2 separate regions of the Homo sapiens genome follow, and region 2 is linked to region 1. Evidence: fine-mapped expression QTL. A gene starts in region 1. The other region holds a variant in brackets. All regions are shown on one strand. Distances are from middle to middle. Region 1 holds the start of NDUFAF7 (NADH:ubiquinone oxidoreductase complex assembly factor 7). Region 2 overlaps CEBPZ (CCAAT enhancer binding protein zeta).

Evidence for each region. PIP is the estimated chance that this variant, and not a neighbour inherited with it, causes the effect. A credible set is the group of variants that fine-mapping cannot tell apart.
Region 2: its variant is the best candidate, but not a certain one, in a credible set for the expression of NDUFAF7 in skeletal muscle (FUSION, PIP 0.53).

The regions. Positions count from the first base shown.
Region 1 is chr2:37,229,512-37,234,749 of GRCh38, forward strand. It overlaps NDUFAF7 (NADH:ubiquinone oxidoreductase complex assembly factor 7), which reads left to right and starts at 2,147. Exons shown (of 10, transcript NM_144736.5): 1 at 2,147-2,249; 2 at 2,595-2,755. The coding sequence starts at 2,195. It overlaps CEBPZ (CCAAT enhancer binding protein zeta), which reads right to left and starts at 2,085. Exons shown (of 16, transcript NM_005760.3): 1 at 1,901-2,085. The coding sequence starts at 2,056. RefSeq lists enhancers at 1,430-2,629, 1,587-2,036.
Region 2 is chr2:37,205,515-37,210,752 of GRCh38, forward strand. All of the region lies in intron 13 of CEBPZ (CCAAT enhancer binding protein zeta), which reads right to left. It also overlaps a transcript of CEBPZOS not described here. Among named protein-coding and RNA genes, the nearest start is that of CEBPZOS, 12 kb to the left of the region's middle. RefSeq lists an enhancer at 1-696. The variant G/A (reference allele first, on the strand shown) is at 2,462.

The DNA.
Region 1 (5,238 bases):
TGAGCAAAGATACACTGCAAGATGAGCAAGATACAATGACAGGTGATGCTGGGGAAGGGGTGGCGGAAACGGCACTTTCATACATGGTTGATGTGAGTGTAAACTGACACAACCTCCATGGAGGACAATTTGTCAACTCCAATCACAACTATTTAATACAAGGCACACATCTGTTGGCCCAGCAGCTTCATTTCTAAAAATTAACTAACTGATTGAGACATGGTCTCGCTCTGTTGTCCAGGCTTGAGTACAGTGGCATGACCATGGCTGAACTGCAGCCTCAACCTCCCAGGCTGAAGTGATCCTCCAACCTCAGCCTGTAGCTGGCACTACACGCCCAGCTATTTAAAAAAAAAATTTTTTTTTGAGATGAGGTCTCCTTATGTTGCCCAGGCTGGTCTCAAACTCCTGGACTCAAGGTATCCTCCCACCTCTGACTCCCAAAGTGCTGGGATTATGGGTGTGAGCCACTGTGCCTGGCTCATTTCTACAAATTTATACTACATATACACTTACAAAAGTGGGGGAAAAACACGATTAAGGTTATTAACTGTAGTATTATTTAAAATAGTGAAAGACTGGCAATAATTTAAATATTCACAATAAATGGCTGGTTAGATAAATTAAGACAGACAAAATGATTTATGCAGCCATAGCAATGACACAGAACGTTATGCACTGATATAGAAGGATTTCTAAGACAGAAAAGAAAGCAAAATGTAGAGATAGGTGTATATATATGGTACCATTTATGTAAAAAAGATACACCCGTATTTCATACACATAAATGAGTATGTATATGCTTGAAAAGGTATATAGTATCCCTGAAAGATATAAAATGCAGTTGTAAAAATAATTGCTTCCTATCAGGGCAATGGTTATGGCTGAGATAAAAGTGGAAACAATTTGACTTCACTATGTATCTTTTAAAGTTTGCACCACGTGTTTCATGTGTATATATTACCTATTCAAAACTTAAATATACACAAGCACAGAGCAAACTGTGAATCTGCCTATCTCTAACTAACTCCTCCACCTTGAAAGTCCAGTCTCCAAACAAAATAATATTAAAAACAAAGTTAATTTCTGTTCCTTATCTGCTTAAAATCTTCCAGTGGTTTTGCATCAAACTCAGAGCAAAAGCCTGCCCTCTGACCCCTCGGCCCTCCTTTCTTACTATTCTCCCCTTAACTCACTCTGCCTCTGCTACACTGGCATTTTGGCTGCTCATGGAATAGGTTAGGCACTCTTCTGCCTGTCTTTGCATTTGCTGTTCCAACTGACTGGAATGGCAGCTCACTCCTTCCTGTCCTTTAGGATTCTGCTCAAACATTTCCGTGATGTGTTTGTCGATCATCTCATTTAATACTAACGCGCTCCCACTCCTTATCGTCCTTCCTTGTTTTATTTTCTTTTATAGCACTACCCCGCGTCTGCTGTACTATGTGTTTAAAAGTTTGTTTACTGTTTCTCTCCCTTAATTAGGATGCTCCAAAAAAGAGGGCTTCTGGGGCATACAGTGACACGTGCATGTACTCTATGAGAACAGAAATGAAAATTCCAATACCACTGGTGTTCAAAACACTCATACCACAAGGTCAGGACCAAGAAAAGCCACTCTCCGACCTGATGGTGTGATGGTTATACCACGTCAATAAAATCAGAAGATCGCCTACATCCTAAGAATAGCCAGAGAATACAACGTTCAATTCGAAACTTTTCTTTTGTAAACAGCAGTGGAAACCGGCGTGGGAAGCGCACCGAACACATGCTTCAGAGGCTGGGATCTCGGTCCTGGACGCCCGCGCTCTACGCAGCGCGGAAGCGGCGGGGCAGTCAGCCTAGCCACCTTCGGAACTCTCCACGCCTGATCCCGTTCCCCGGAGCCCGCGGCCGTTACCTTGGTGCCTCCGAGCCGTAACACTTCCTCCAGGGAGAACCCATTCTCGGCTTCACTAGTATTATCCTCATCCTCCTCGTCCGGATCTTCTACTGCCTCCTCGGGGCGCCAAGGCCGCTTGGCATGGAACTCCAAAGGCTCCTTGACTGCGGCCATGGCGGGCAAAGCATACGCGCGTGAAACTCAGCCTATTTCCGCTCTGCCAGTGGCGTAATTCCTGTCGGGGCGTGTCTTCTCCCGGAAATGGTCTAAGCCCCAGCTCCTGGCGGAGCGAGCTAGCCTGCGAATTTCAGCATGAGTGTACTGCTGAGGTCAGGTTTGGGGCCGTTGTGTGCCGTGGCGCGCGCAGGTAAGCGTCAGTCCCCTCGAAGCCCGGTTGCCGTGGAAGCCGCGTGGGGCGCCTTCCTCAGCTCTTCAGTTGAGGGTACCGGGGGATCAAGGGCTCGGGGGCTCACTTCCACCTTGAAGGTACCCTGGGCTGGAAACGGGTCCGGTACAAACGCAATAGGGCTGCGTAGTCGTGGGCAAGTGGGTGCTGTCTCTGCGCCCCGTGGGCGTGCTAAGCACAGTAGCCCGCGGTCTGCGGTGGGGCGAGGTTAAGGGTTCACGAAGCTGTTTTGAAAACGCTCAGGCGGCTTGCGCTCGTGAATGGTCAGATTTATCATGGGGTCTGTTTAATTTGTGTTTTTCGCAGCCATTCCTTTTATTTGGAGAGGGAAATACTTCAGCTCCGGGAATGAGCCTGCAGAAAACCCGGTGACGCCGATGCTGCGGCATCTTATGTACAAAATAAAGTCTACTGGTCCCATCACTGTGGCCGAGTACATGAAGGAGGTGTTGACTAATCCAGCCAAGGTATGGGTCGGGTAGCCCGAGGACTAGGCCCTCTCTAGCCGATTTGCGAGGTGCAAGCCAGGAGGGAGAAGCCCGAAGGTTCTCAGCCCAGGCAGTGGGGGTGCCTGCCAGGGGAAGAGCCATTTCTGAGGACCTGGGGACAGATAATTTGTCAGTTGGTCAGGGCTGGCTCACGTCAGAGGCAGTGCCAGTAAAGAGGAGAGGACACGGTCCAAGGGTGTTTAGGAGACAGAATGTAGCTGATTGGATTTATGATGCGGGAAGGATGACTTTCCTACTTGGCTGATGGTGGGTGGTGTGGATTCATTGCTTTGGGAGAAGGAATACGGGAGGAAGGATGGAGAGTTCAGGCTGGTATATGAATTTGAAGTGTGTGGGACTCTTAGGTAGAAATCTCCAACAGGCAGCTGGAAATAGGAATTACTGCCTGGAAAGTCGTCTGTGTTGGAATGGCTTCAGCTGGCATTGGAGACATGTGCTGGGTTTTCTCACATGTGCAGTTGAGAATGCAGTCTGGGTCGTCTTCACTGTTCTAGGATTAGGCACAGTCACAGCTTTCTGACCCACGTTTCCTTGTCTGTTCTACAGAGCCATTTGGTGAAAGCCTATAGTCCTTTATTTTAGAATATTTCATCTTTTGCTGGGTTGAAATATGACCTCTGTGGAATTCTGGGGTTAGATTGGCCATTGTTGTTGGATATGGTAGTGTGACTCTAGTGTCGAGGTTTACCCAAGGCCGGTATCTTTCTTTCGATGCCGGTTAGGCAGGGCTGCAAGATAGGTGGCTTAGACTAGTGTGGTGGTACTAGAAATAGAAGAGGGTGATTTAGAAAGGGACTGACAGGATTTGCCGATGGATTGAGTGATGGAACGGAGGAATCAAGGCTGATTCGTACTTTTAGCTTGAGCAGTTGGGTGATGATGGTACCTTTTATTGAGATTAAGACAGACAGGACCAGGTTTGGAGGAGTACTAGGGAGAGGGCCTACACCAGGAGCTGCATTTTATACATATTTTGTTAGCAGTGACATGCAGGTGGAGATAGAAAGTAGGCAATTCGCTGTAAGAGTCTGGCGTTCAGGGCCGGACGTGGCGGCTCACGCCTGTAATCCCAGCACTTTGGGAGGCCAAGGCGGGTGGATCACGAGGTCAGGAGTTTGAGACCAGCCTGACCAACTTGGTGAAACCCCGTCTCTATTAAAAATACAAAAATTAGCCGGGCGTGGTGGCTTGTGCCTGTAATCCCAGCTAGTCAGGAGGCAGGAGAATCGCTTGAACCCGGGACGCAGAGGTTGCAGTGAGCCTAGATTTCGCCATTGCACTCCAGCCTGGGCAACAGAGCGAGACTCTGTCTCAAAAAAAAAAAAAAAAAAAGTGAGCCTGGTGTTCAGAAGAAAGACTGGGCAGGCATATATACATTTGCTCGTCATCAGCATATAGGTCATATTTAAAGCCAAGGAACCAGGGAGAACATACTGAGAGAAAGGAAGGTTTCCCAGCATTGAGAGTAGGGGTAACTCTAAAATGTAGAGGCTCTTAACCTAGGGACCCTTTAATAGAAATCAGGGGTTTCATGAAGCTGGATGGAAAAAATATTATACCTTTATTTTCACTAACTTTCAACTGAAATTTAGCATTTCTTCAATTATGAACATACGCAGCAACTAGTAGCATCAGCAATACCTGTGACTTTGTCATCTGTGGAAATCATTGGTATTTCCTTATCACAATACAGTGATCACAGGCATCTCAGGATTTCATCGTGCTCATCCTTACTTCAAAATTTTGTTAATTATTGGGTCTTTGGCTTGATTATGGGCTTTTTTGTTTGTTGGCTTTTTGAGATAGAGTCTCATTCTGTCACCCAGGCTGGAGTGCAGTAGTGCAATCTTGGCTCACTGCAACCTCCACCTTCAAGGTTCAAAGGATTCTTGTGCCTCAGCCTCCCGAGTAGTTGGGATTACAGGTGTATGTTTCCATGCCCAGCTAGGTTTTTTGTATTTTCAATGGAGATCGGGTTTTGCCTTGTTGGCCAGGCTGGTCTTGAACTCCTGGCCTCATATGATCCGCCTGTCTCAGCCTCCTAAAGTGTTGGGATTACAGGTGTGAGCCACTGTGCGCGGCCTAATTATATTTTTTTAATACACTAGTAAAGAAGTGTATATATCACATTTTTTAGAACATTTGATACACATTTTTCAGTTATTTCTTTGTGGTTCTGTGCATTTAAAAACACTCTGTGAAGGGGTCTATAGGCATCACTGGGCTACCACAGTGGTTCATAACACAAAAAAGCGTAAATACCCCAATAATGTTTCCTTATGAACGGAACTAGAAAGCCTAGAAGAAGAGATGTGTGGATTGAAAAAATGTTCTCAAAAATGGGAGTGACTTGATTTATTTTGAATGCTGAAGGGGGAAAGTTGAAGCTGGAAGAGAGAAGGGGACAGCTAAAAGGACTCAGGGGAGTTGTATGAGGAATG
Region 2 (5,238 bases), 24 kb before region 1:
ACCCCTATCTCCCTTCACTGACTCTCTTTTCGGACTCAGCCCGCCTGCACCCAGGTGAAATAAGCAGCCTTGTTGCTCATGCAAAGCCTGTTTGGTGGTCTCTTCATACAGACGCGCATGAAACTTTTTAAAACATTATTATTATTTAACTTTGCAGATCTATTTTTAGTCATCAGTATTTAGCAGTAAGCAGAAGCCAGAGAGGCACTGGAGGCAAAGTATGTACAGTGCTTTCTACATTTTTATCAAAAATCTTAAGACTGTCACCTGATACAGCACTTTTTTCTTTTATTAGCACCTTGTGTTACACTGTGAAGCAGAATCTTGTAAGATAATACTTTTAAAAATGTTAAAAAACAATTAGCAGAAAGAAGAGTTCGTATCATAATAAAGGAGCATGGATTATTGCAAGGGTCAAATGGCAAATAATGGTTGAGAAAAGAAAAAGATAACAGGTGTCTGAAAAATGCAAGGCTTTTATAATTGAATGGTTTAAAAATGAATGAGCAGAGATTAGCATGTGAATCTCTGGACTAGGTAAGGAAGATCTGCATTCAAATGTGAGTGGGCACCATCCAATCTGCTGGGGCCCTGGAGAGAACAAAACAAAGAGGCAAACATGTTGATCTGCTGTGCTGAGGAGGAAAATGGCGGATAAGGGGACAGGACTAACGTGCAGCTCCCACATGGATGGACAGAACAGCGTGTGGCAACGTGTTTAGTCTCCTTAAAAGGTATCCAACAAAACTAAGCTTCCTAAATGAAGGAGAGATATCTATGCTGAGAATTCACCACTACCAAGCCAGCACTATAAGAAATGCTGAAAGGAGTTCTAAATCTTTGTTTTTTGTTTCTTTTTTTGAGATGGAATCTTGCTCTGTCGCCCAGGCGGGAAGGCAGTGGTGTGATCTTGGCTCACTGCGACCTCTGCCTAATGGGTTCAAGTGATTTTTGTACCTCAGCCTCCTCAGTAGCTGGGATTATAGGGGCTTACCAACATGCCCAGCTAATTTTTGTATTTTTTGTAGAGATAGGGTTTTGCCATGTTGGCCAGGCTGGTCTTGAACTCCTGACTTCAGGTGATGCCCGCCTGGGCCTCCCGAAGTGCTGGGATTACAGGTGTGAGCCACTACACTCAGCCTAGGAATTCTAAATCTTGAAACAAAACCTTGAAGTACACCAAAATAGAGCCTTCTTAAAACCTAAATCTTACAGGGCCTATACAATAACACAATGAAAAAACAACAAAATCAAAGTATTCAAGCAACAACTAGCATGATGAATAGAATAGTACCTCACATCTCAAATACTACGTTGGATGTAAATGGCCTAAATGCTCCTCTTAAAAGATACATTTGGACCACCAACCAAGAATCTGCTGTGTTCAGGAGACTCACGTAACACATAAGGACTCACATAAACTTAAGGTAAAGGGGTGGGAAAAGATATTCCATGCAAATGGAAACCAAAAGCAAGCAGGACTAGCTATTCTTATATCAGACAAAACAGACTTTAAAGCAACAACAGTTAAAAAAGACAAAGAGGGACATTACATACTAGTAAAATGATTAGTCCAACAAGAAATGTCATAATCCAAAATATATATGCACCTACCACCAGAGCTTCCAAATTTATAAAACCATTACTACTAGACCTAAGAAATTAGACAGATGGCAACACAATAATAGTGGGTGACTTCAATACTCCACTGACAGCCCTAGACGGGTCATCAAGACAGAAAGTCAACAAAGAAACAATGGACTTAAACTATACCTTAGAACAAATGGACTTAACAGATACCTACGGAACATTCTACCCAAAAACTGCAGAATATACATTATTTTCACCAGCACACGGAGCATTCTCAAGGATAGACCATATGGTAGGCCACAAAACAAGTCTCAATAAACTTAAGAAAACTGAAATTGTATCAAGTACCCTCTCACACCACAGTGGAATACAATTGGAAATTAACTCCAAAAGGAACCCTCAAAACTATATACAAATACATGGAAATTTAATAATCTGCTCTTGAATGATCTTTGTGTCAACAATGAAATCAAGATGGAAATTAAAATTTTTTGAACTGAACAATAGTGACACAACCCATCAAAACCTCTGGGATACAGCAAAAGCGGCACTACATTTAGTAAGTTCACAGCATTAAATGTCTACATCAAAAAGTCTGAAAGAGCATAAACAGACAATCTAAGCTCACACCTCAAGGAACTAGAGAAACAAGAACAAATCAAACTCAAACCCAGCAGAAGAAAAGAAATAACAAATATCAGAGCAGAACTAAATAAAACTGAAGCAAACACTACAAAAGATAAATGAAACAAAAAGCTGGTTCTGTGGAAAAATAAAGAAAATCGGTAGACCATTAGCAAGATTAACCAAAAAAAGAAGAGAGAAGATCTGAATAAGCTCAATTAGAGACGAAATGGGAGATACTACAACC[G/A]ATACCACAGAAATACAAAAGATCATTCAAGGCTACTATGAACACCTTTATGCACAAAAACTAGAAAACCTAGAGAAAAATGGATAAATTCCTGGAAATATACAACCCTTCTAGATTAAACCAGAAAGAAATGGAAACTCTGAACAGACCAATAACAAGTAGCACGACTGAAACAGTAATAAAAAAACTGCCAACAAAACAAAGTCCAGGACCAGATGGATTCACAGCTGAATTCTATCAGACATTCAAAGAACTGGTACCAATCCTACTGAAACTATTCCAAAAGATAGGGAAAGAGGGAATCCTCCCTAAATCATTCAATGAAGCCAATATCGCCCTAATTCCAAAATCAGGAAATGACATAACAAAAGAAAACTAGAGACCAATATTCCTCATGCACACAGATGCAAAAACCCTCAACAAAATACTAGCTAACCAACTCCAACAGCATATCAAAAAGATAATACACCATGATCAAGTGGGTTTCTTGCCAGGGATATAGGGCTGGTTTAACATACGCAAGTCAATAAATATGATATACCACATAAACAATTAAAAACAAAAATCATATGATCATCTCAATAGACGCAGAAAAAGCATTTGACAAAATCAAGCATCCTTTATGATTTAAACCCTCAGCAAAACTGGCATACAAGGGACGTACCTTAAAAGTAATGAAAGCCATCTATGATAAACCCATAGCCAACATTATACTGAACAGGGAAAAGTTGAAAGCATTCCCCCTGAGAACTGGAACAAGACAAGGATGCCCACTTTCACCACTTCTATTCAACATAGTACTGGAAATCCTAGCCAGTGCAACTGGACAAGAGAAAGAAAGGGCATTCAAATCAGTAAAGAGGAAGTCAAACTGTCACTATTCACCGATGATATGATAGCATACCTAGAAAACCCTAAAGACTCATCCAAAAAGATCCTAGATCTGATAAATAAATCCAGCAAAGTTTCAGGATACAAAATCAATGTGCGCAAACCAGTAGCATTGCTATACACCAACAGCAACCAAGCTGAGAATCAAATCAATTACTCTACCCCCCTTACAACACCTGCCAAAAAAAAAAAAAATAATAATACTTAGGAATACACCTAATCAAGGAGGTGAAAGATCTCTAAAAGGAAAACTACAAAACACTGCTGAAAGAAACCACAGACACACACAAATGGAAACGCATCCCATGTTCATGGATGGGTAGAATCGATATTGTGAAAATGACCATACTGCCAAAAGCAATCTATAAATTTAATGTAATTCCCATCAAAATGCCATCATCATTCTTCACAGAACTAGGAAAAAAAATCCTGAAATTCATATGGAACAAAATAAGAGCCTGCATAGCCAAGCAAGACTAAACAAAAAGAACAAATCTAGAGGCATCTCATTACCTGACTTCAAACTATACTACTAGGCTATTGTTACCAAAATAGCATGGTACTTGTACAAAAACAGGCACGTAGACCAATGGAACAGAATAGAGAACCCAGAAATAAAGCCAAATACTTACAACCATCTGATCTTTGACAAAGTAAACAAAAACAAAGTGGGGAAAGGACACCCTATTGAACCATTGGTGCTGGGATAACTGGCAAGCCACATGTAGGAGAATTAAACTGGATCCTCATTTCTCACCTTATGCAGAAAACTCAAGATGGATCGAAGACTTAAAGATAAGACCTGAAACTGTAAAAATTCTAGAATATAACATTGGAAAAACTCTTCTAGACATTGGCTTAAGTAGAGTTCATGACCAAGAACCTAAATGCAAATGCAACAAAAACAAATAGATGGGACTTAATTAAGCTAAAAAGCGTCTGCATAGCAAAATAAATAATCAGCAGAGTAAATAGACAACCCATAGAGTGGGAGAAAATCTTCGTAAACTATGCATCTGAGAAAGGACTAATGTCCAGAATCTATAAGGAACTCAAAAAAGTCAGCAAGAAAAAAACAATCCCATCAAAAAGTGTGTTAAGGATATGAACAGACAATTCTCAAAAGATATACAAATGGTCAAGAAACATATGAAGAAATGCTCAACATCCCTGATTATCAGGGAAATGCAAATCAAAGCCACAGTGCAATACCACCTTACTCCTGCAAGAATGGCCGTAATTTAAAAATAAAAAAAATTTCAGATGTTGGCATGGATGTGGTAATAAGGGAACACTTCTACATTGCTGGTGGGAATGTAAACTAGTACAACCACTATGGTAAACAGTATGGAGAGTCCTTAAAGAACTGAAAGTAGAACTATCATTTGATCTAGCAATCCCACCACTGGGTACTACCCAGAGGAAAATAAGTCATTATATAAAAAAGACAAACACACAGATTTATAGTAGCACAATCTGCAATTGCAAAAATATGGAACCAACCTAAATGCCCATCAACTAATGAGTGGATAAAGAAAATGTGGTATACATATACCATGGAATGCTACTCATCCATAAAAAGGAGAGAAATAATGGCATTCGCAGCAACCTGAATACAGCTGGAGACCATTATTCTAAGCGAAGTAATTCAGGAATGGAAAACCAAACATTCTATGTTCTCAGTTATAAATGGGAGCTAAGCAATGAGGATGCAAAGGCTTAAGAATGATATAATGGACTCTGGGGACTTGGGGGGAAGAGTGGGAGGCAGTGGGGGATAAGAGTACACATTGGGTGCAGTGTACTGCTTGAGTGATGGGTGCACCAAAATCTCAGAAATCACTACTAAAGAACTTACCTATGTAACCAAACACCCTACCTGTTCC